7 linked regions of the Homo sapiens genome follow. The protein of the gene in region 1 interacts with the protein of each later gene in a biochemical or structural test. Each region holds a gene or a part of one and is shown in the gene's direction. Other genes may lie near its edges. The genes, in order: AKT1, DAB2IP, IKBKG, TTC3, BLVRA, RAC1 and URI1.

Region 1 (3,500 bases):
GACAGCTCCAGACTGGCATGCAGGCGGGTGGGCGTGAGCAGCGGGGTGGCCCAGGATGGGGGACGGGTGGGGTGGGCTGCATGCAGCCCCCTGAGCCTGCTCTGCTCTCACTGAGCGCCCCTGCCTGCCCGCTGCACCTGCAGGGGCCCTGTGGCTGGGGGAGGGGACGTGGGAGGCGGGGTGGAGCTGCGTGGCACGTATGTGCGTGTATGTGCACACTCGGGGGTGTGCGAGATCCCAGGTCAGGGACAGGAGCCGGCACCCAAGGGTGGCAGGACCACGCCTGCTCGGCAGCCCACTGGCAGGGGCATGGAGGGCTTGCGGAGTGGGTGGGGTCTCCTGATGAGTGCTCTTGGGCACAGGGGCAGATTCTGGGCCCTGGATCATCCTCCCTGCAACTGGGTGTTGGCCGTCCTCCAGAGGTGTCAGGCAGCTATGAGTGGGCTGTGGCTGTCCCCTTCCTGGTCCACCCCAGACCTGACAACAGCCTCTTCCCACACTCAGGCCCTGCTGGGTGGGGTGTCCCCACCCTCCACCAGCATCCCCCCAGCAGCCCTGGCTTGGGCAGAGAGAGGGCTGGTCTTGTGGAGACCACGCCCCGTGGTGCTGGTGGGAAGGGCATTGGGCAGCTGGGGCCGGGGTAGGAGGGAGAGGTCACCTGGCCGGGGGGTGGCCATGTGTCGAGCCTTGGTGGCTCACCTCTATTAAAGAACTCCCCCGTGGCTCCCTGGAAAGTAGAATGCCTGCTGGGATGCCCATGACCCATGTCCTCTGAGCTCCCCTGGGGCTGCTGCCCTGCTGGGACTTCCCTGTGCACCAGGGAGGGCTGGACGCGTCTGGGCTCACCACGAAGACCCAGCAGGACTGGGTGGTGGGTGGTCTGGTGATGGGACAATTGCTTGTCCCCCACATCCCTCCAGGTGTCCCTGTCTGGGGCTCAGTGTGGCATGAAAACCCAGGCCCCAGAGCTCAGGGACCCCAACCCCTTACCCTGGCCCCCTCCCTAACCCCTGCCCAGTGACCCCTCAGATGAAGCAGTTGCCTAATTAGTAAGTTCCCTGTTGTTCAAACTCCTTGCTTGGCAAAATGTAAGTGGAACATTTTTTTCCGAGTGTCAGTATGAAAAATGGTACTTGCTGGGCTATCACCGAGGACAGCTGCTCTGATTCTGAAGTGTGAACGCCTGCGTACGGCTGATGCTGCAAAACTTGAGGGAGAATGTTCCCGTGTACCTGAATGACCCACGGGTGGGACGCGGCAGGGCCGACGGCGGCAGGGCCTGAGTGTGGGTCTCAGCCTGGGGACTTGGCACCCTCTGTGCCCTGGGGCCCCTGCCCAGCTGGCTGGGCCACCTCCGTGTCTGGCTTCATCGGCAGTCCCCAAGACGGTGCTCCAGGCCCCTAGACAGGGAGTGCGATCCCACGGCAGTGGGCAGTCCTGTCCCGCGAGCCCGGCCCTCAGTCTGAGTGGTGCTGACCTCTAACTGTGGACGCCATGCTCCATCCTCCTGGTGGGTGGCGGCGGGGCGGGGGGGGCGGCCATGCTGGGCAGCCCACACAAGCCACTGTCACCTGCTGTCGCCACCTGGCCGACCCTGGTTGATTGGGGAATGCTGTCAGCCCCGCAGCCCCTGTGGCCATAGCTGGGGCCCGAGCTGCTGCTGGTGCCTGCTGGGGACTGGCTGGTTTAGGGCTGCCTCCTCCAGGAAGGCTGTGCAGACTGGCCCAGACCTCTTCCCAGCCTCCTGTCCATGGTACTCCATCCCCTGCGTCCAGCTGGCCCAGCCCGTTTTCAGACACAGCTCGGGGTGGCTCTTCTGAGAGGGGCGCTGTGGTGGGGCGAGTCTGCCTTCCCGTTGACCCAGGGCCGTTTCTGTCGCTGGCCCTAAGAAACAGCTCCCGTACCGCGCCTGCCCCCTGGGACTCAGGCATCCCAGGCACATCTGTCCTGGCACACCCAGTTCCTGCCTGGCTGCCTGGCGAGGGTCTGACGGGTAGAGTGTGCGTGGCTCTCACCACCCGCACGTCTGTAGGGGAGTACATCAAGACCTGGCGGCCACGCTACTTCCTCCTCAAGAATGATGGCACCTTCATTGGCTACAAGGAGCGGCCGCAGGATGTGGACCAACGTGAGGCTCCCCTCAACAACTTCTCTGTGGCGCGTAAGTATCCCCTTGGCCTCTCGGGATTCAGATTTGGGGGGTTGGCTGGAGCCCTCTTTGCCCACCAGGCCCCACGATGGGGGTCCCCTGGAGCCTCCAAGTCCTGGGCTGGCAAGCAACAAGCACTGGCTGGGTGGGGGTCTCTGGGCCGAGTCCCGAGGCTGGCTGGGCAGGGGTCTCCGGGCTGAGTCCCAAAGCTGAGGCTGGCTGGGTGGGAGTCTCCAGGCTGAGTCCTAAGGCCGAGGCTGGCTGGGCAGGGGTCTCTGGTCCAAGTCCCGAGGCCGAGGCTGGCTGGGCAGGGGTCTCCGAGCTGAGTCCTGAGGCTGGCTGGGCGGGGGTCTCTGGTCCGAGTCCCGAGGCCGAGGCTGGCTGGGCCGGGGTCTCTGGGCTGAGTCCCGAGGCCGAGGCCGGCTGGGCAGGGGTTTCTGGGCAGAGTCCTGAGGCCGAGGCTGGCTGGGCGGGGGTCTCTGGGCCGAGTCCCAAGGCTGGCTGACCCTGGAGCAGTTCCCTGGTGCCCATGCTCTGGAAGCTGGAGGGTCCGGACAAGTGGCAGCAGAGCCCAGTCTCAGGGTGGACAGCTGCCCCGGGGGCCCCTCCTCCAAGGGGGTTAGATAGAGCCCATCAGGGCCTCTCCTTGGGAAACCCCTTGGGTGAGGGGGCAAGAGTCCATTGGGGTCTCCAGCTCTGAAGCCTCCATCACTCGAGGAAGAGCTCGTGCCTCTCCCTGCACAGGCTCTCAGCCTCCAGACCCCATGGCAGAGCCTTTGCTTCCCCTCTGTGAGGCTGCCTCCTTGCCCATGGAGGGGCAGGTGCAGAAAGGCCAGCGGGGGACCTTGGCCGGAGCATCCCACAGAGATGAGAGACATGTGACGCTCCCTGCTCCGCCCTGCTGTGGCTTTATTCCTTACCTGTAGCGGGGGCAGGTGCGACCCTACCCATGTCAGACGGGAACCCTGGCATGGAGACCCAGGCGCCCTGCTAGGTGGGAGGCTGGGGACACGTGGGCCTCCCAGCATGGTCCCCATTTTCTGTGTCCCTGTCCTGGAGCCCAGCTCTGCCTGTGGCAGCCAGAGACACGGGTTGGGCATGCAGGTGTGACTGAGTGGCTAATTAGGGCCCAGTTGTGGGCCATCTGTATGTGGCAGGGCTGGGTAACTGCAGGCCTCTGGGATCTGTCTCAGGCAGGTCTGTGGTGCAGAGCGAGGTGCCCACCAGGGGCTGGCCTTAGGTTCCATCCCCATGTGCTGCATCGGCCCCTCCCCTCCAAGTAGCTCTGCCCTCCTTTCTTTGAGGCCTGCGGTCCTCCGACTCCCTTGAACTTGCTGGACCCCCAGGTTCT
Region 2 (3,500 bases), on another chromosome or scaffold:
CCACCTGAGGGCAGGGCCCCACCCAGGGAGAAACTCAGGCTGAGGAAGCCACCCTGTGGCCTTTGAGCCAGTCCCTTCTGACCTTGAACTTCAGCCTCCCCATCCACATGGGGGCTTGGTCCCATGGTGTGGTAGCATCGGACCTCAGAGGAGTGGGTGGTGCCTAGCATCTCAGCCTGGATCAGACTCTTGCCCCCACACCCTTTCTGGCCTCTGGCACTAGCAGGGAAGGAAAATGACCAAGAACTCAGGCTGTGTATTTGTTCAGAAACAGAAAAATGCAAGGAAGAGTTGGTTGCTGCCAGGTTCTGCAGGTGGCCAGGCTGGGGGAAGGGAGCAGGGCTTTGTCCCTGGTAGGGCTGTGAGTGAGGGACAGTATCTGCAGTCTCCCTAGTTTGACCAATAAGGGACTTAGGTTCTTCCCTTTTCTGGGCTTCAGTTTCCCCATCTGAAGGATGGGCAGAGTGAGACCTGCTGTGGTGGGGGGTAGAGCACGAAGCTGGAGGGTAGCTGGAGGTGGGGTAGAAACAGTGACCTTCGGAGGGTGAGGGCCATTTGCATTTTCCCACTGTGTCCCTAACTCCACTTGAAGGCTGGGCATGTCCCATGGATTTGGGGGGATCCTTTCCCCAGAAGGGTATCATCAGCAAGGTGCCTCCCCACCTAGTCACACCAAAATCAAGAAAAGTTTTGTCTCTGACCCCTGTGTTTCCCCAGGGCTGCTAGGAGAAACAGAAATTTTCCTCTAGCCCTGGATAAAGTTCTGACCCATTCATTCAGCCAGTCAGCTCCTCTTAAGCACCTACTATGTGCTGGGCTTCAGCTTGGGTGCAGGGGCACATGGAGATGAATCACATGTGCTCCCAGCCCTTGCCAAGCCCCCAGTCTGTTGGGGAGGCCAGCTTGTTGGGGTGCACTAGGGCACAAGTCTCTTTCTAGGGGACAGAGCAGTGGTTAGTGGGAGGCAGGGGCTGTAGTTCCAGCTCAGCCGCGGACTGGTTGCATGACTGGGCACATCATAGGGCCTCAGTTTCCCCATCTGTCGAGGGGGGTTAATCTTGCTCTCCTGCCTCTTGGAATGCCTATACCCATAGCCATGAGGGGTTTTGATTATGTTGTTCATGTTTTCATCTGAGTTTTTCTAGGGGTCCAGCCACCTGCCAGGCCCTGGCTGGGAGCTGGGGGTTTTGCAGATGTTTTTCTCTTGAGATGGTCAGGTCCTCCTCCGTGCCTGTACACACCCCTCTTGCATGCCTCTGTATCTTGCCCGCGTGGTGGGAGAGGATGGTTTCATACAACTGGTTCCTAACCAAGAGAACAGTTAGGTAAGGACCTGTGTGCCACCATGGGGGGTGGGTAACTTCTCAGGGGACCCTGGCTTTTTTTTTTTTTGAGACGGAGTTTTGCTTTTGTTACCCAGGCTGGAGTGCAATGGCGCGATCTCAGCTCACCGCAACCTCTGCCTCCCGGGTTCAAGCGATTCTCCTGCCTCAGCCTCCCGAGTAGCTGGGATTACAGGCATGCACCACCACACCCGGCTAATTTTGTATTTTCAGTAGAGACGGGGTTTCTCCATGTTGGTCAGGCTGGTCTCGAACTCCCAGCCTCAGGTGATACACCCGCCTCGGCCTCCCAAAGTGCTGGGATTACAGGCATGAGCCACCGTGCCTGGCTGGGACCCTGGCTTTGATAAGGTCTGCAAGAGGCCTCTGGGGCAACAGCTTGGACTTCATGAGTTGGGCGAGCCTGAGAACAGCCCTGAGGTGGGGGGGTTTTGTGGTTCCCCAGTTTTCAAATGTTCCCTGCAAGGGCCCTAGGCCTGGCTCTCTGCCTCCACCTTGGATGACACCTGTGAAATCATTATGCCCTTTTCTGCCTTGTCTCTTCTTCTGTTTCTGCCAAGACACAATCTTTCATTTGGGGCTTGGCCCTAGCCTTTCCAGTCCCTCCTCTCCCTTACATACCTCAAGGATTGGGGAGCTCACTCCCTCTCAGGTTGTGTAATGAGGGTGAAAATGGCTCCTTTTTGTTACGGCTCCTGTGTGCTGCGTGCCTGCTCCATGCCTGGCAATGAGCTCAACTCTGAACTTGCCTTGTCTTATGCAGTGTTCAGAACAACACTGTGAGATGGATACTGATACTATCCTCATTTCATAGGTGAGGAGACTGTAGCCCAGAGAATGAAAGCTTTGCCCAAAGCCACACAGCTCAGAAATGGTGGAGCCCAGCTCTGCCCACCTCCAGGTCCTGAGATTCACCTTGCGATATCCGTGGGCAGGCAGACCTTTCTAAGGTCAGGCCCTGGCTTTGAGAAGGCCACCTCCCTTCACAGCCAATGACTTCACTGGGTGTTCATGGCAATTGTCTCTCACAGTCTTGGTCAAAGCTTGGGAGGGAGGCAGGGGAGTGGCCCCGTTGGCATCTGGTTGCCTCCTCCACCTGCCTGGGATAGCTCAGGTGGGACCTCCCCGGCCTGCCCCTGCCCCCTGGATCCTGCTGTCATTCATGACCTGCCAACCATGCCCTTTCCCAGGGCATGCGACAGGTCTCAGGGCCTCAGCCATGTTTCTCCACCAAAGCCCTTAGTGCTGAGGGTTCAGAGTCCCCTGGTGTGAGGTCCCTGGAGCCTGGCAGACACCTGAGGCCTAATCCCCAGAGCTCTCTAGGTCCTCGAAGGAGGCCACAGGCCCCAGTGAATCTGCTGGAATGTCAGCCTCTTGCCCTTGCCTTTGTCCTTCCTGACCCACCCTCATCATCTTTAATAATCAGGAAGAGAACAGCTCCCTTTCACCAAGCTGAATGTGTGCCCGGCCCCATGCCAAGAGCTCCCCCTGATTACCTCATGTCTCATCTCAGTTCTCCAATCCTCCTAGCAGGTAGGGGTTATTGTTGTCACTTTCCTTTACCAGGTGGGAAACGGAGCTCTGGGTGTGATATTTCCTCTGCATTTTCCTGTCGGGGTGGTGAAATAACTGGTTTGAACCCAGTCCACTGGACTCGAAAGCTCATGCTCAGAAGCCCCAGGGCTCCCTCTAACTTTCTTGGTTGCTGCAACTCAGAGAGCGCTGGAATGGACCCAGGGCATGCTCCTCATCTCAGCGGTTCAGGTTTTCATTCTTCTATCTCCATCCTTCTATTTAATTCTGTACTTACTAAGACCTGGGGGTACAGGGAGGGGCTTGGAGCCTATTTGCCCAGCTGCTGAATGGGGAGGTTGGAGAGATGGATACTTATGGCTCCAGTACCAGGAGCCAACTGTTTCCCTTGACAACTGGGGAAACTGAGGCCCACAGAGCCAAGGCCACTTGCCCGTGGTTACCTAAAGATGTTAACGAGAAATCCGGGTCTGGAACTCAGATCCCTTTGTATCCTGTTTCGGTGTTGGTGTAGTTTGTTGCTTTCCCTAAGATGAGCCCAGATAGGGAAACTGAAGTGCCTGGGCTCCTGGTTGGGTCTTCTGCGGGGAGAGAATGGCGATTCAACTCCCGTGTACTGTTGAA
Region 3 (3,500 bases), on another chromosome or scaffold:
CCCCTAAGGGCCCAGAAGATGTCTGTCCCCCAAGATGTACATGCTTATGTCCATGGAGGAGGCTGTACTTAGAATGTTGAGGGAGAGATTCACGAAGAAGTTGCATGTCTCTAGTGTGTGACTCCACTAGTGTGAGACATGTCCAGAAGTGGCCAATCTGCAGAGGCAGATGCAGATGAGGAGGGTGCTGGGGGAGCGACTGCTTATGGGGTCCCGGAACTGTTCTGGAATTAGATAGTGCGGATGGTTGCACAACCTGATGGATACACCGAAAACTGCTGAATTAGTTAAAATAGTGAATTTGATGTCATGTGAATTTTACCTCAGTTCAGAACATTTTTTAAAAGACAAGTTGCCAGCCAGGTGCAGTGGCTCATGCCTGTAATCCGAGCACTTTGGGAGGCCCAGGCGGGGGGATCACCTGAGGTCAGGAGTTTGAGACCAGCTTGGCCAACATGGTGAAACCCCATCTCTACTACAAAAATTAGCTACAGACGTGGTGGCGGGCACCTATAATCCCAGCTACTTGGGAGGCTGAGGCAGGGAGAATTGCTTGAACCCAGGAGGTGGAGGTTGCAGTGAGCTGAGATCGCGCCACTGCACTCCAGCCTGGGCGACAGAGCGAGAGTCTGTCTCAAAAAAAAAGACAAGTTGCAGATGAGCTGAGCTTTGGGCAGAGCAAGCGGGATTCTGATGGGGGGTGGATGTTGCGCTCGTCAGCAGGCAATAGTTAGTTGGTTGAGGGTTTTGATCACGGGGTAGCTACTGCCTGCCCCATTTTATCCAGCTCTGTAGTTGCTATAGAGTTGCTAGAACCTTGGCACATCACTTATCAGTTTTGTCACCTCAGATGGCTTCTTCACTACTTGGGGTGTCTCCTGGGTGTGGGGCTCTCCTTCCTGTGGCCTCTGCTGACTGCCTGGCACTGGCACACATGCTCTGGTGAGGGGAGGACCAGCGGTTTTTCCCGTTTGTTTTCTGCTTCCTCGTTTAACCCTCCTCGTCTTGTAAGATGAATGTTCTTGTCTCTGTTCACTATGCAGATGAGGACTTTGAGGCTCAGAGACGCCACTAACTTGCCTGGTCCAAGCCTTTTGGGCCTCTCAGGCTGCAGCCAGCAATGCTGCAGTGAAGTTTGCCTGGGAGGCTGACCCTAGGAGTCTGCAGGCGTGTTAGGACCCCCGATCTAGAAGACAGCAGAGATGTAGGCCAGGGAGGACCAATACCGAGCATCTGAGGGCAGGCACACCTCAGACTGACCAGAATACAAATGAATTCGAGTCACTTACAAACAAAGTGGCATAAGGCCAGGCACAGTGGCCCATGCCTATAATCCCAGCACTTTCGGAGGCCGAGGTGGGAGGATTGCTTGAGGCCAACGATGTGAGACCAGCCTGGGCAACATAGCAAGACCTTGTCTCTACAAAAATAAAAATTCAAAAAAGTGGCATTTAACACATACTTTTTTTCTTTTTTTTGAGACAGAGTTTTGCTCTGTCCCCCAGGCTGGAGTGCAATGGTGTGATCTCGGCTCACTGCAACCTCCACCTCCCAGGTTCAAGTGCTTCTCCTGCCTTAGCCTCCCAAGTAGCTGGGATTACAGGCGTGTGCCACCACACCGGGCTAATTTTTGTATTTTTATTAGAGACGGGGTTTCACCATGTTGGCCAAGCTGGTCTGGAGCTCCTGACCTCAGGTGATCCACCCACCTTGGCCTCCCAAAGTGCTGGGATTACAGGCATGAGCCACAGTGCCTGGCCAACACGTACTTTTAAGTGAAGCTGATGTGTTTGGTGTTATTTTCTTGCAGAAAGTGAGGGGCATTAGTGTAAAGGATTTTGGAAGTGTTTAAAGAAACAAAAGGGAGTGTTGAGACGCCATCCACCCCTGAGAGAAGCTGCGTGGTATTATGGCGGGTGGGGGCACCAGGATGGGTGGCCCCACTTCTGGCCTCTGACTTCCTGAGCCTCAGGCCCATGTGGGCCCAGGCAGGGCCCGGCAGGCCGGGCTGCCCAGCTCCCCTCCACTGTCCCCTCTGCCACCAGATGCCATCCGGCAGAGCAACCAGATTCTGCGGGAGCGCTGCGAGGAGCTTCTGCATTTCCAAGCCAGCCAGAGGGAGGAGAAGGAGTTCCTCATGTGCAAGTTCCAGGAGGCCAGGAAACTGGTGGAGAGACTCGGCCTGGAGAAGCTCGATCTGAAGAGGCAGAAGGAGCAGGCTCTGCGGGAGGTGGAGCACCTGAAGAGATGCCAGCAGGTAGTCGGGGCAGGGCCAGGTTCTGAAAACCCGCGGTGACGCCAGTGTTCCACAAGGGAACCCGTGGTCGGGGTCCCCCAAAGCACCCTGGGGCTCAGTGCTGTGCCGGGAGGGCTCGGAACTCAGAAAAGCCGTCACACTCCCAGTTCCGGTTTATTACAAGGAAAGGACACAGGTTACGGTGAGCGAAGGCTCAGGGCGCACAGGGCGGGCTCCAGGAGAGACCAGGCGTGAGCTTCAGCGGCTCCTCGCCCAGGGGAGTTGTGCAGACGGCACCTGTTTCTTTCGGCAACAGTGTGGGACAGCGAGCACGGAGTCACAACCGGGAAGCTCACCCCAGCCGTGGCGGCCGGGGTTTTCACGGGGGGTGGGCCGCGTGGGCACCGAGCGCCTGCGTGGCCAACCCTGGTCACTCGGCTGTAGCCACCAGAGGTCCAGCTGTGTGGCCCAAGGCTCCCCCCATAAATCGTGTCATTAGCACAGACCGCCTGGTTTCAGGGTCTTTGTGTGTGGGCTTGGCTGATCGCAGGATCCTGGCGATGGTAGTCAGGAAGGGGCCGTGCTCCCTTTGAGGGGCAAGGTGGAGAGAAGTGCTGGAGAGGAGACTTGCTGGCGGGTACCTGGCACTTGCCACAGCCAGGCTCCACTCCCCTGGGGAAAGGCGTGGATGGTGGGCTGTGCACGCCGCTCCACTCAGGGCTTAGAGCGCCTGGCTTAAGGCGTTGATTTCCTGTGTGGGAAGTGGATGAGTTTTCTACAGCTGCCGTGACCAAGCACCACAGACTGCGGGGCCGAAGCCACAGAAACGCGTGGCCTCCCGCTTCTGGAGGCCTGGAGGCTGAGCTAGCGGTGGTGTCGGCAGGGTGGGCTCCCCGCCAGGGCCGCGAGGGAGCTGCCTTCCAGGCCTCTCCACGGCGCCGGGGGCCGCCGGCTGCACCTCTCCAGCCTCCATCTCCGTCATCCTGTGGCCTTGTCCCCGCGGGCCTCTGTGCCTGTCCTCCTCTTTTGACAAGAACACCGGAGATACACAAAGGTACACAAAAGCGGGCCTTTGTTCAAGCTGGCAAAAGAGATCTTCTTCAGAAACCCCTGCTTGCGGGGGAGAGAGCTGAGCTCCGTTCCCGCCCCAGCAGAGGCGGCCTGGCCTTGCGAAGGGAGAAGGAGGGAGTCGGGAGGGGGCGAGTGCAGGCTCAGGTGAAAGATGACGGGGCAGCCAGCGTCCTTGCCGCGAGGCCAGCCGTGT
Region 4 (3,500 bases), on another chromosome or scaffold:
ACTCTTGAATGCATGGATATGTGAATTAGTCAAAACTGAATACGCTAGTCACACTTTGTATGTTCTCTGAGGGGCTGAATGTTTTGGTTGTTTTCCATTTTTTTTTTTATTGTGGTTGTCCTTTTTTTCTTTTAGTTAGAAATATACTGTGCCCATCTTTTCTAGGAAATAGAAAACGGTCAAGTTAAGTGTATATTTTTTTCAAACTAAACCTGGCTCCGAGCTTTGCACTGGGCATTGGAGAGGCCTTCAATGGCTCTTCCCCGGTCTGGCACTTCCTCTTCTTCCCTGACCCTCGAGTCATGGGCAGCAGTGGAGGGGCATGAACCCTCCTTCTGCAGCATCTGCCCCATCTCCTCCTGGGCCGAGTCATGCCTTGGGAGAGACAGCAAAACCCTGAACAGCAGTTCAAGGTCTTCTCAGCCTTGGGGTGATGCCTCCAGTGCCACTCCCTGAACTTGATCCCACTGCCAGGGCTGCCTGCATTCGCCCACTCCCTCAGCAGGGGTTTTTAGAGCATGAGTTTGAGCTAGGTTTTCTGCCAGCTGCTAAAGACCCAGATGGGACTCATTTTGTGCCTTCAAGGCGCTCAGAGTTAAGAGGCAGTGAGCTAGAGTAGAAGTTAATGGTGCAGTAAGGGTAAGTGCTGTGAGCTGCAGGGAGAACTGTGCCTGGAGTCCCAGGCGACACTCAGGTCTGCTCTCACATCGAAAGCACTGTCTATGCTCACCAGACTGTGAGCCGCTGAGGCCAGAGCCCTCCATTCATCTCTGCGTCCAGCACCCGACACCAACCCTGCCCATGGATGTTTGCCGGATGAGCCATCCGTTTGTTTTGTTTTGATTTGCACAAGTAATCCATGCTCATAGAAACTAGAAAATAGTAAAGAAAAAGATTAAATCTCCCTTACCCTGAGGCAACCACTGTTAACTGTTTTTCTAGGCATGTATGTATACATGCAGCCCCTTTATTAAAAAGTGAGTTATATATGATACATGTTGTCTTGTTAGCTGCTTTCATTCAGCAGGCTGTTGGGGCCAGCTTTCTATGTCAGGGATTATGGGCTTCCGTCATGATTTTCCTTTTGGCTACACAATAGCCCATTGTGTGGATGTGTTGGAATTTACTACCCTCAACTGTTAGATGATTAAATGTATGATTAATTCACACCATGCCATGTGATTATCCCATACTGTACTTTAGGTATGGTAATCTTCACCTGGGGATCTTCTGGTCACATAAAACAGTTTTTTCTCTGAGGAAATTAGAACTTTATACTTTTCTTTTTGTATTTTTATATTTTTTCTTAAGAAATGCTATTAAAAAATAAGTTGTTTCCTCAGACTGTTTAGCTGTAATTGTGAATAATTTGCCACCCTTTGTGGCAGAAGATGTTTGAAGGCCACTTGAAGGAAGAACTCGTGTCATAAAAACAACTGTAGTTATTCTTTACTATTCAGGTGTGTTTGTTTCCACAGGCACTGGGTGCAAGTTCCTGTGAAATATGCCACGAGGTGTTCAAATCAAAAAACGTGCGTGTGCTCAAATGTGGGCACAAGTATCACAAAGGGGTAAGAGCTCTTTTTGGCCATCCTTACAGCATGCATTGGGACCTTCAAATATTTTCAAAATAAGAAAGGAATTGTTTTCTAGTCATCAGTATTTATTGTGCTTTCAAACTATTTTCTTTGCAAACCTCCCGTGTCAGTGTTCAGTGCCTCCCTGTCCTCACACCAGCTCTGCAGGAAGGGCAGCTCTGGAGACCGTCCTTTCCATCCCTTGTGGGGAGAGGGGAACAGCAGCTCCAGCCACTCGTTAGTGCTGAGATTCAAAGCAGTATTAGTTCCTTGAAAGGTGATTTCTTACACACTTGACTAAATGGAGAAACAGTGAAACCATTTTTTTGACTTAGTGTAGTATATGAAGTCAGTTTAACATTTTAGAGGAGAAAAACTAAACCTAGCTGAGTCCCTTCTGCCTGACCCAGGGACAGTCCTGCTCGTACCGTTCTGGGATCTGTGTGTGAACTATCATGGTGTTCTAGGTACCGTGAGCATTTGTGTGCACCCCTGCTGCTGGGTTAGAACAGATCAGGTCTCTGCCATGGGGATTTGCTAATCCCTTGGAACGGGATAAATACAGCATGCTCACTGAAAGGAATTGAGACCACTTGCCAAGTCTCTGGTGTGGTGTGCCTCCTTGGGTACAGGGTCTTATATTTGGGCTAGCTGACTGTCCACAGCCTCTGCAGTGTGGGCAGCAGCAGCAGGAGTGTGGCGTGCAGGCTGGAGGGCTGTTCCAGAGCCAAGGGCCAAGGCCAGGCCAAGGGATGGGCTAAGAATGAGTGATTGGGTCATAGGGCCGAGAATGCCAGGCTCTGGAATTTGGCGCAGCTGAAGTGGAAGAGCCGAGCCTGGAACCGGGGATCAGGGCAAGACCACCCCCTGAGGCCAGGTTGGAGGCCCAGAGCGCTCAGGATCTGACCCTGAGGTGGGATCGTTTGCGGCTGGGGCTTTGTCCACACTCTGGCCTGAGCGGGTGTTGGTGTCCCTGAGTATTGGGCAGCTCCAGGCCCAAGAGACCAAGGGCAAGTGAGCCACGCCTGCCAAGGAGCCCAGCAGCACAGGGGAGCTAAGCTTCCTCATGGTCCTGAAGGCATCTTCTGATTTTGTTTTCTCCTTTTCAGTGCTTTAAGCAGTGGCTTAAAGGGCAGAGCGCTTGCCCGGCCTGCCAGGGTCGTGATCTCCTGACAGAAGAGTCACCTTCTGGAAGAGGCTGGCCCAGTCAGAATCAGGAGCTGCCTTCCTGCTCTTCTAGGTAGTCACACTTCACTAAAGTGTCATCCACCAGTGTGTTGAATCCGAAGAATGACAATTTTCTACCACTGGTGTAAAAAACAAACATTTGAAGACCCTTGTGCATTGTGTGTCACAAAGCTAAATACATGGAAATCGTTAATATCGCTGATATTAAGTAATTTCCCCACTCTGAGTGAATACTTTGATGATTGCCAACAGTGGCTAATAAAATGACGGCTACCACACTCATGGGTCACTGGGGCTGCGCAGGGCTCTTTGAGGTGGGTGGCTTCTTTTGGAAAGTACTATGAACGTCTCGAAGCAGTATTCTAGTGATAAGAATTCTTAACATAGCCAAGCGCCCCACGTTTGTTCCCCACGTTTGTTCCCCTTTTCTGTTTGAAAAACCTGTTCTGGTAGCTCCACAAGAGAGATGATACTGACTTTTTAAATTTTTTACAAGAGTCTGTATTCCTGATATGCCTATATTTTTCCTCAAAGATTCTGCATTTTAAGGATGGGCATAAGCAAACTATATTTTAATAATTTATAGTTAATGTTAAAATATTGGCTGATTTAGACCAAAAGATTCAAATCTCCTCTTTGTGAAATCCCATCTGCATTTGATTTTTTATTATTTTATGTTCCCCCGTTAGATTGTTTTAAGTGTTTGCTTTTCATCTTTTATAGATGTAATCTGAT
Region 5 (3,500 bases), on another chromosome or scaffold:
TGATATGTTATTGCCCTGTGAAAGTCTGTTCAGTTTGGGGCTAGGAGGGATGCAGTCAGTGAAAGTGGCATAGTTTGTAATGTTTTTTAGAGTTTTGAATAATTATGTTAACTAATCTTTATAGAAAAGTTTAAAGTGTACAGAGAAGCAAAAAGAAAGTAGTCACTAAAAGTTTCACCACTTAGAGACATAATTACTGGTAATATTTTGATGTATATATTTCCAGACTTGTGTCCCATGTAGCTATTATATTTTTCTCAATAGATCCCAAAGTATCCAACTCCCTCCAGGGCAAGAGTTGCTTTTACCTTTACCCTTAGACCTCTGAGGCTGGCAGCTGGCCCCACCTGAGAGGGTCACCCTCTCCCTAATCCTTCCCCATACTTCTGTGAGTCACCTGGCTTTGGGGCAATAATAGATACTTGAGAGGGCGTTTGAGGAGGAACAAGGAGGAAGGTCACAGCTGTAGTTCATTCTGCATGATGTGTAATCCAGGCTTTTTCAACTCTGGCACTGTTGACATTTTGGGCTGGATAATTCTTTGTGTATGTGTAGTTGGGGTAGGAAGGTGTCCTGTGCATCACAGGATGTTTTGCAGCATCCCTGGCCTTTCCCTACTAGATGCCAATGGCACATACCCTTTTCCCCCCGAGTACAACAATCAGAAATGTTGGTGAGAAATACTGGGTTAATGAAAATCACTAATTTATTGCTGACAAAGCTCTGGAGTTTCAGATTCCAATTTGCATGTGGGAAAGAGACTGAAATCAAAAGGGAAACATAATGTAAGCCAAGGAAGCTGTTTAGTCCTGGCTGTGCTATTAATTTACTGTGAGATTTTGCATCTCTCCCACGTGCAAATTGGAATGTGAAACTCTAGAGCTTTGTCAGCAATAATTTAGTGATTTCCATGAACCCAGTAGTTCCTTTTTTTTTTTTTTTTTTTTTTTAAGATGGAGTCTTGCTCTGTCACCCAGGCTGGAGTGCAGTGGGACGGTCTCGGCTCATTGCAACCTCCGCCTCCCAGGTTCGAGCAATTCTCCTGCCTCAGCCTCCCGAGTAGCTGGGACTACAGGTGCACGCCACCATACCCAGGTAATTTTTGTATTTTTAGTAGACATGGGGTTTCACCATGTTGGCCAGGATGGTCTCGATCTCTTGACCTCATGATCAGCCCCATGCCCGCCTCGGCCTCCCAAAGTGCTGGGATTACAGGCATGAGCCACCGTGCCCGGCCCTTAACCCAGTAGTTGTTACTGACATTTCTGATTGTCGTGCTGGGGGGAAAACGGTATGTGCCACTGGCATCTAGTGGGGAAAGGCCAGGGATGCTGCAAACTGATATACTGCCAAGTTTATCAGTTGGGAATCCCAACAGTGAAAAGCATAAAAATGAAAGGAATTTTAAGGAGACTTTTTATAGAAGAGTGGGCAGGATTGGAGGAGCCAACAAGTGATGGTGAGGCACACAGGGAAGAGCTTCAGTGGGCACCATCCCCTCTCTGGTTTGAAGGGGTAGGGAGGGGACCAGAGCTGGGAGGAGGGGGCTGGAATACTGCTGGAGGAGCCACTCCCTTCCAGACCTGCTGTGGCCATCACAGAATGCAGCCACTGCCAGAGCAGCAGCCTGAGGAACCAGGCAGGGGGAGCACAAGTACCCTAGCCTCTCTCTTTCTGTTTCTTGCCTGCCGATCTCCTCCACTGGCTAAACCCAGCTGGATGCTAAGAGTACAGTCAGCCTGCCTGCTGAGGAGGGACCACCAGGGACCACCATCAGCAAGGGATCCAATGTCTTTCTGCCTCTGCAGAATGAAGGTTGGGGCACGGGGGGCGCTCTACTTCTTAGGGATATTGTGGGAATAAAAGGAAATAGGCAAAAAATGTTTTTGAAAAACAAAGCACATACTGCGCACCCGTGGGCCACTACTGCTTTTGACCCCTGGCTCTGTTTCATGAAGTAATGTCGTGTCATTCTCTTTTTAGGTGCTACAGGATTTCTTTAGGTTTGTTTTCTGTCCACCATATTTCAACTCATGTGTGCTGTTTGTTGTGCTAAAACAAATATTTGCTGATGCCTGAGTGAATAGTTGAATATTTTATATAAGTCAAATTTATACGTAATGATTTTTCTTGTAACTTAGCCGTTTCTCTTTTACAAACTCAGAAAACCTCAGACTTTGAAAAGGCCTTGAAGTTCCTCACCTGAAATCTGAGAACTTGGAGCGCCTTAAAAAATCTAAAGGAAAACAAAACAGTGAAAGAACATGATATAGTCAGTGTAGAGAATAAAATTATTTATGTAATTAATATTGAGGATGCAGATAACACGTTGTGAAATCTTGCTTGTAAAAAATCTCGATCTGCTGAAGAAAGATGTTCTCTCTAGAGATCTTTGAAAGCATAATTATTGAGCTTTTAAAATGTTAGAAACAAAAGTTAGACCCACACATATTCTGGCGTGTGGAAGATTTGCATTCCTTCCCCTGCCCGCCCCGCCCCCGCACTTGTGAGTTGTGCCTGTGTACGCAGTTCCTGTAGCACTCGGCTGGGCAGAAATCATCTTTCAGCACTAAGGGAACATAGTTATGATCTGGACCTTCTGGGAGTGGTCAGTGCCCAAGAACAGGTATGGGACTCCAGAAAGTTCTGCTCTCAACCCTATTTTGAAATAGAGTTACACATTGTTCTACAATTATTTGAGTTAATAAGCAGCTCTTTTCAAACGTGATTATGCCCTTCCAAGTTTAAATACACTAGACTTTAGTGAAAGTAATTGACCTCATCTCATTTCTCTCCTGTTATATTAAGATCACTTTCAGTAAAAGGTAGAAGCTTTTGAAGTGGTGAGGAGGAGGTAGAGGAGGGACATAGAGCAGATAGGGGCTGGAAAGTGGGGTGGGGAAGAGAGTGGCTTCTCTTTGGCAGAGTACCAAGGAAAAGCCCTATCTGTACAGAACCTTTGTGCCTGGGAACTTGATGGCTGCAACCTGAGCCTCAACCTAGTTTGCTTGCGGAGCCAGAAGAGAAGCTAAAAACCTTCAGTTAACCAAGCCAGACACCAAGAAAGTTAAACCGAAAGAGAACCCCCCACCCCCCGCAAAAAAAAGAAGTAAAGTGGGTTAAAGTGATATGTTAGCACAGAAAGAGAACATAAGGGTCATCTAAGTTCATCTGCCCCCTCTTCTATTTCAAGGTGCAGAAACTAAGGCACAAGGGACCCCGTGTCCTGCTCTTGATCACATAGCTAGTGGGTGCCAAGCCAGGTCTAGAACTCTGTTCTCTGGGGTCACAGGCTGGCTCTTCATCCCTCTAGAGAGATAGCTCATCTGTGTGCACCTGAGCCCGTTGTGTTTCGGAGTCAAAGCAAATAAAGGCTCAAACTCCAAGACTGTTTTGCAGACCGGCTGCAGTAGATACGGGGGGAGGAGAAACCTGCTTTAAATTGCTTCAAGCAAGTTGTTTCTGCAAAGGTGTTGACTTTTTTCTTTCAACTTTCTAGT
Region 6 (3,500 bases), on another chromosome or scaffold:
GGAGGTTGTAGTGAGCTGAGATTGTGCCATTGCACTCCAGCCCGTGCGACAGAGTGAGACCTTGTCTCAAAAAAGCAAAAACAAAAACTATTAGAGATACGTCTTTGGCCGGGCACGGTAGCTCAAGCCTGTAATCCCAGCACTTTGGGAGGCCGAGGTGGGCGGTTCACCTGAGGTCAGGAGTTTGAGACCAGTCTGGCCAATATGGCGAAACCTCGTCTCTACTAAAAATAGAAAAATTAGCTGGGCACGCCTGTAATCCTAGCTATTCAGGAGGTTGAGGCAGGAGAATCGCTTGAACTTGGGAGGTGGAGGTTGCAGTGAGCCAAGATTGTACCATTGCACTCCAGCTTGGGTGACAGAGGGAAACTGTCTTTTTTTGTTTGTTTGTTTTTAAAGGAGATACATCTTCATCTGTTCCTGCTTTGACCCTTTGCCTGGACCATGGCAGTGTCCTTTCAGGCTGTACGTCCCTCCATCCTGCCCTCCTGTGCCTCTGCTTACACTGGGCTCTTAAGGAAACTCCTGCTCCTTGTCTCATCATCCCTAGGGATGGTTCTGTCTTATCATTTCTAGAATTGGATGCCTTGCCATCTTGTTTGCTCCTTAACTCTGCATACAGGGCTGTGTAAATAATTCCTTCATGAAAATCTCTATTTCAATCTTCTGGGATGAGTTTTTTCCTTCTGGGACCCTGACTGATAGAGACTGATAATACACCCGTATGAAAATATGTCTGCCAGGTGCGGTGGCTCATGCCTGTAATCTCAGCACTTTGGGAGGCCGAGGCAGGCGGATCACCTGAGGTCAGGAGCTCGAGACCAGCCTGGCCAACATGGCAAAACCCTGTCTCTACTAAAAGTACAAAAATTAGCCGGGCGTGGTGGTGGGCGCCTGTAATCCCAGCTACTCAGGATGCTGAGGCAGGAGAATCACTTGAACCCGGAAGGCGGAAGTTGCAGTGAGCTGAGATTGTGTCACTGCACTCCAGCCTGGGCGACAAGAGCAAGGCTCTGTCTTGAAAAAAAAAGAAAAAAAGTCAGAAATAATTTGCAAAGCATGTTAGAAAATTCTAGATTTCCTGAATAGCAATTTAATTGAGATTGGCCAAGAAATATTACATAGGGTTGATACTCTTTTATTCTAAGATAGTCCTTTCTGAGCATGGGGTCTATAATTTTTTTTTCCTCCACCTTACTGCTGCCCCACCTTTTAACTTTCACTTAGTGGACCTTTGCCCCAAGATTTTCTCTCAGCTTTTCCTAGGTAAGACAGCATCACCCGGGCGCGATGGCTCATGCCTGTAATCCCAGAACTTTGGGAGGCCAAGGCAGGCGGATTGCCTGAAGTCAGGAGTTCGAGACCAGTCTGGCCAATATGGTGAAACCCTGTCTCTACTAAAAATACAAAAAAATTAGCCAAGGATGGTGGGGGGCGCCTGTAATCCTAGCTACTCGGGAGGCTGAGGCAGGGGAATTGTTTGAATCAAGGGAGGTGGAAGTTGCAGTGAGCCAATATCGTGCCACTGCACTCCAGCCTGGGTAACAGAGTGAGACTCCGTCTCAAAAAGGAAAAAAAAGACAGCATCTTACATTCAGGTATTTATAAACAACTTTTATTATTTATTTGTTTTTATTTTATATTGGCTCACTGCAGCCTCCACCTCCTGGGTTCAAGTGATTCTCCTGCGTCAGCCTCCCAAGTAGCTGGAACTACACGTGCCTGCTACCATGCCGAGGTAATTTTTTTTTTTTTTTTTTTTTTGAGAAGGAGTTTTCGCCCTTTTTGCAAAGGTTGGAGTGCAGTGGTGCGATCTCGGCTCACTGCAACCTCCTCCTCCTGGGTTCAAGCGATTCTCCTGCCTCAGCTTGTCGAGTAGGTGGGATTACAGTCACGCTCCACCACACTGACTAATTTCGTATTTTTAATAGAGACGAGGTTTCTCCTTGTTAGCCAGGTTGGTCTCAAACGCCTGACCTCAGGTTATCCACCTGCCTTAGCCTCTCAAAAAGTACTGGGATTACAGGCATGAGCCACTACGCCTGGCAATTTTTTGTATTTTTAATAGAGACAGGGTTTCACCATGTTGACCAGGTTGGTTTCGAACTCCTGACCTTAGGCGATCTGCCCGCCTTGGCCTCCCAAAGTGCTGGGATTATGGGCGTGAGCCATCGTCCCTGGCCTAAACAACAGTTTTATTATTTTATTTTTTATTTTTTTATTGCTTATTACTATTTTTTGAGATGGAGTCTCGCTCTGTCACCCAGGCCGGGGTGCAGTGGCATGATATGGGCTCATGGCAACCTCTGCCTCCTGGGTTCAAGCAGTTCTCCTGCTTTGGCCTCCCAAAGTGATGGAATTACAGGCCCGAGCCACTGCGCCCGGCCACAACTATTTTAATAGTGTTGTTTTGGTGTTGGTTGATTAAAGGAATGGGAACGAATGACTTGAAGCCCTCTCTGTTTCACTCTTTATACAAAGTGGAGTCCAGATTGGGCTAGTGGCCTGTCTAGCCCAATGTCTGACTTGGACATACATTACTGTCCAGGAGTTTCTTAGCTGAATGTGAAAAATGCCTTCCGTGACATCATCCTTACAGGAACATTCTTTACATTTATTCTTTACTTCTGTTGAACGGTGGTGGCGTGAACCATGAATTTGTTTAAGCTTTTCAGCTGTTTTGTGTGTTTTCCTCTCAAGGCATGGGGTTTCATATTTTTGACCTGTGGTAAAGGTATTTGAATTCTGCACTGGCCTCCAAATGTAGGTGTAGTATATGGCTCTGATCTTTGTTGATGATTTTATACATAATGTGGTTTTTTTTCTTGATAAGCCAAAAAAATTATACATAATGTGTGTGTGTGTGTGTGTTTTAATTTCAAATGATAGTTACAGTAAAAGTTTGGAGTTGGGCTAAGTGGGAGGAGCATCAGGAAGCCATTTTTAGAAACCTTAAATTCACCCTTTATAACTTTCTGTCTTTTTGCATTAGTCATCTGATACCTTAGTACTGCCTACTTTTTCACATCTCCATCACTACGTAGCTCTTAAAATTGTAGTCTTCCTTGAAAGGAGATGTTTTTGTCAAGAGTCTTTGCCACCAAGGCAGGATTGCATGTGATCAGTAGGAATATTTTCCTGCAATGTCTTAATATGAAAAATTTCAAACAGACTAGTGGAAAGCATTGTACAGTCAACATGCACATACCCATGGCCTGGATTCTATGACAGTATTTTGCTCTACTTGTTCATTTTGCTGTATTTGCTTTATCATGTCTTCCTGTTATCAGAGGGAACCTTTTAAGAGGATTTATAGAGGAGTTGATTTTGTTTTTTGTTTTGTTTTGTTTTGCTCTTTTTGAGGTGGAGTCTTGCTCTGTTGCCCAGGCTGGAGTGCAATGGCATGATCTCTGCTCACTGCAATCTCCGCATCCCAGGTTCAGGCGATTCTCCTGCCTCAGCCTCCTGAGTAGCTGGGCTTACAGGCACCCACCACCATG
Region 7 (3,500 bases), on another chromosome or scaffold:
GTCTAAAACTTTATGTAGAATTTTGGCAAACCATGCTATTGCCACCTAGGACATGCTTAAAAATAACATGCTGTGTTTTTGTTCTCACTCATAGGTGGGAATTGAACAATGAGAACACTTGGACACAGGGTGGGGAACACCACACACCGGGGTCTGTCATGGGGTGGGGGGAGGGGGGAAGGATAGCATTAGGAGATACACCTAATGTAAATGATGAGTTAATGGGTGCAGCACACCAACATGGCACATGTATACATATGTAACAAACCTGCACGTTGTGCACATGTACCCTAGAACTTAAAGTATAATAAAATAAATAAATAACATGCTGTGTTTTATTATTAGGCCAGAGAAATAGCTTTCAAAATAGTATGAAGATACCATTTGAGGCTATAAAATTATTGTGATTGTGACTATTTTAGATATAAGATTGTAATAAAAATTTTCAGATTAATTTCTAGAATAGATTCAAGGAAATTTTCAAAAAGTTGTTCTCAGTTTTATGAGTTACGTATAGTGAATGCATATGTGTTTTGAATATCACAGAGCCTTTGTTGATGTTGTGAATGGAGAATATGTCCCTCGCAAATCCATCCTGAAGTCTCGAAGTAGAGAGAATAGTGTGTGTAGCGACACTAGTGAAAGCAGTGCTGCTGAATTTGATGATAGGCGGGGAGTTTTGAGGAGTATCAGCTGCGAAGAAGCCACTTGCAGTGACACCAGTGAGAGCATTTTGGAAGAGGAACCACAAGAAAATCAAAAGAAACTTTTGCCCTTATCAGTAACACCTGAGGTGTGTGTGTGTATCTTTTAATTCTTTATTTCATATAGTATCTTTGACCAGTTTTAGCTATTTAATCTGAAAAGTCATAAGATTAAATTAATTCTAGGTTTTATACTTTCTTGGTACTAATTAATAAAAAATTAATAGTCACAAACAGTACAAATATTGTGATAATCAAATAGTTTATTTTTTGATAAACACATTACTTGTCTTAACGTTCTATTTCAGCAAAATGGGAAATTTAAAATGTCTTACTTGGCATTATGTATTACATTTGTAGCTAGGAAATTATTTCGCAGTTTATTTTAAATAAATTACCAGTAGGTCATTTTCTGATAGTGTAAGGAGCAGATTACATTATTCTCTTTTAAATACCTTGGCTAAGTTAAAGAAAAATAATGCATGCATAGCAGATAATTACCTAAAGTCTAATATTTTACCTTGTACCAGTGAAACTTAACTCTTGGGGGATTATGGAATTGTTTTATAATCTGATGAAAGCTGTAGACCCTGTCCATAGAAAAAATAGTGCACACTCAATACACTTTCACCCACCACACTTCTTACAGTTTTTGGTGGTGGTGCAGGGGAGGTTAGGAAATCCCCAAATAAGGATGTCTGTGAAATATAAGGCTATTGATTTCTTCATTCTTGTGTTTTGGTGCGTATTTGAAGTTTTCAATTTAAAAAGTATTTAGGAAGATTGGGGAACCCATGCCTGGATCAAACCAGTGTACACATTTGTATATACAATAAGATACATGCATATATATAACCTTATCTAAAAATTCCATTGCTTTTACTAAATGGTATTATACTCAGTGTATTAAATGGTAATTGGGGATGGAGATTGGTAGCATTTAGGGACAGTACATATGACTAGAATGTTTTCTTCCCCTCTTCTTAGTATAATGATCTTAGGTGACCTGGAAAGTATCTTACCTTATTTGATAGTCTTCCATACTGTTAGAAAACAGGTAATGGATGTTATCAGGTAATTGCTGATAAATGTTTGAAAATTAGTTTTTTGTAAGGACTTAGTGTATCATGGTACAGCTAGAGTGTGGAACCTATTTTTTATTTCACCCTTAGTAGCTTTGCATTTTGTATGGAAATGTTTAATAGTAGTTGCTATACATTTTTTAACATCAAAGAAATAGTTCATGATTATGGTAAGTACTTTGGAAGATATCCTTTTCAGTATCTTTTTAAATGCTAAAATACCTCTTTTTCAAAGGCATTTTAAATAGAAGAAGGAGAAGAAGGCTCTATGCTCATCGTGATAAAGTGGAGTTTTTAGGAAAGTAAGCTTTAAGCTGCTTTTACCAGTTGAACTCCAAAAATAATGTAGGAGAGAGATGGCTTTCTTTGTTTTTGTTTCAGTGGTGGGGCAAGGTAGAAGAAGGTGGCTTTTTAAATTATTTAGGTGTTACGTTGTTTTAACTAATTTTGAGCACTTGGTAGACAGAGGAGAACAAAATGTACATTAAAGTTCACCTGTCAAATTTTCATTTGTAGAGGGAAGGATGGAGGTTCTAAATACCAGCAATCTTAAAAAAAAAAAAAAAATTAACTCCTTGTGTCTTACCTATTTTTGTATAAAACGACATGTACAGATATTTCCAGCAATTTATGCACATTCTTTAATTCTGTTCCAGTTGAACATATAGTTGACCAGATTAAATGCAGCAAACATCCAGGTGAAATTGAGTCATTTCTTTTTTTGTGGAACTTCTGATTTCTGTCATTGAGTTAATTATATTAAAATTTTGAAACCTGTACTTATTCCTACTAGTATCAGCACTTTTATTTTTCAACTTCCACTGATCTTTTAAAATTGAGGCAATATGCAGTAAAATATTTAAATAATTGCATAAACACCACCAAAGAGATATCAGTTAGAAATGTCAGTACTGGTGAAACTAAGCTATTGGCTAGCAGGCAGCAAGGCCATCATAGGATAGCTCATTCATCAACTGATGTACAAAAGTCAGAGTTTGACACCCTAATAGCATTTTTATTTTAATACATTATTTTTCACAGCATGGGCTGGACATGAATGGAATGTATGAAAGTTTGAAGACCTTTTATTTATCCATTTCTTTTTTTTCCCAGATAAAATTTACATTTTACATTTTGTTTTCTTGCATGTATACTGTAAAAATTACTTCTGTTTGGTGGTGAAATTAAAACTTAATGGTGTTGGTTTCTCTGAACAATTAGTATTTTGGTGTAGTAGTGTTGTCTAGCCAAAAATCTCGTGAATTTACTTTTAATGAAAAGAATTGCCAAATGAGTGAATGGGAAGATTTTGTGGGTGTCTTATTTGCATTTTATTACCATAACCTGACTTTTGTTTTCTAGGCTTTTTCTGGAACTGTTATAGAAAAAGAATTTGTATCACCTTCCTTAACACCACCCCCAGCCATTGCTCATCCCGCACTACCCACTATTCCAGAACGAAAGGAAGTTCTGTTGGAAGCATCTGAAGAAACTGGAAAGAGGGTTTCAAAGTTTAAAGCTGCCAGATTGCAACAGAAAGACTAGGCCCTGTCTAGGAAATGGGAATTTACATCCTAAAACCTAGTTGTTCATTTGTTTAGAGTATCTATAGCAAAATAGGTTACATGTAGTTTGAAATAAGGTATCCTGAGTTACTTTGGCAACAAGTTCTTTTACCCTTACCCGTGGTATTTGAAAAAAATCAAGGTAACTG

Evidence for each region.
Region 2: of the proteins of AKT1 (region 1) and DAB2IP, one has a biochemical effect on the other in vitro, tested with the Homo sapiens proteins (one study listed by BioGRID).
Region 3: the proteins of AKT1 (region 1) and IKBKG form a complex in vitro, tested with the Homo sapiens proteins (one study listed by BioGRID and IntAct).
Region 4: the proteins of AKT1 (region 1) and TTC3 form a complex in vitro, tested with the Homo sapiens proteins (one study listed by BioGRID and IntAct).
Region 5: the proteins of AKT1 (region 1) and BLVRA form a complex in vitro, tested with the Homo sapiens proteins (one study listed by BioGRID).
Region 6: of the proteins of AKT1 (region 1) and RAC1, one has a biochemical effect on the other in vitro, tested with the Homo sapiens proteins (one study listed by BioGRID).
Region 7: of the proteins of AKT1 (region 1) and URI1, one has a biochemical effect on the other in vitro, tested with the Homo sapiens proteins (one large-scale study listed by BioGRID).

The regions. Positions count from the first base shown.
Region 1 is NC_000014.9:104,778,749-104,782,248, reverse strand, and holds part of AKT1 (RAC-alpha serine/threonine-protein kinase), read left to right. Parts: intron 1-2,032; coding exon 2,033-2,161; intron 2,162-3,500. UniProt on the Homo sapiens protein: AKT1 is one of 3 closely related serine/threonine-protein kinases (AKT1, AKT2 and AKT3) called the AKT kinase, and which regulate many processes including metabolism, proliferation, cell survival, growth and angiogenesis.
Region 2 is NC_000009.12:121,654,634-121,658,133, forward strand, and holds part of DAB2IP (disabled homolog 2-interacting protein), read left to right. Parts: intron 1-3,500. UniProt on the Homo sapiens protein: Functions as a scaffold protein implicated in the regulation of a large spectrum of both general and specialized signaling pathways.
Region 3 is NC_000023.11:154,554,120-154,557,619, forward strand, and holds part of IKBKG (NF-kappa-B essential modulator), read left to right. Parts: intron 1-2,045; coding exon 2,046-2,257; intron 2,258-3,500. UniProt on the Homo sapiens protein: Regulatory subunit of the IKK core complex which phosphorylates inhibitors of NF-kappa-B thus leading to the dissociation of the inhibitor/NF-kappa-B complex and ultimately the degradation of the inhibitor.
Region 4 is NC_000021.9:37,198,754-37,202,253, forward strand, and holds part of TTC3 (E3 ubiquitin-protein ligase TTC3), read left to right. Parts: intron 1-1,478; coding exon 1,479-1,571; intron 1,572-2,686; coding exon 2,687-2,821; 3' UTR 2,822-3,500. UniProt on the Homo sapiens protein: E3 ubiquitin-protein ligase which catalyzes the formation of 'Lys-48'-polyubiquitin chains. Mediates the ubiquitination and subsequent degradation of phosphorylated Akt (AKT1, AKT2 and AKT3) in the nucleus.
Region 5 is NC_000007.14:43,761,680-43,765,179, forward strand, and holds part of BLVRA (biliverdin reductase A), read left to right. Parts: intron 1-951; exon of another isoform or gene 952-1,095; intron 1,096-2,525; exon of another isoform or gene 2,526-2,626; intron 2,627-3,500. UniProt on the Homo sapiens protein: Reduces the gamma-methene bridge of the open tetrapyrrole, biliverdin IXalpha, to bilirubin with the concomitant oxidation of a NADH or NADPH cofactor. Does not reduce bilirubin IXbeta.
Region 6 is NC_000007.14:6,377,527-6,381,026, forward strand, and holds part of RAC1 (ras-related C3 botulinum toxin substrate 1), read left to right. Parts: intron 1-3,500. UniProt on the Homo sapiens protein: Plasma membrane-associated small GTPase which cycles between active GTP-bound and inactive GDP-bound states.
Region 7 is NC_000019.10:30,011,739-30,015,238, forward strand, and holds part of URI1 (unconventional prefoldin RPB5 interactor 1), read left to right. Parts: intron 1-546; coding exon 547-793; intron 794-3,148; coding exon 3,149-3,331; 3' UTR 3,332-3,500. UniProt on the Homo sapiens protein: Involved in gene transcription regulation. Acts as a transcriptional repressor in concert with the corepressor UXT to regulate androgen receptor (AR) transcription.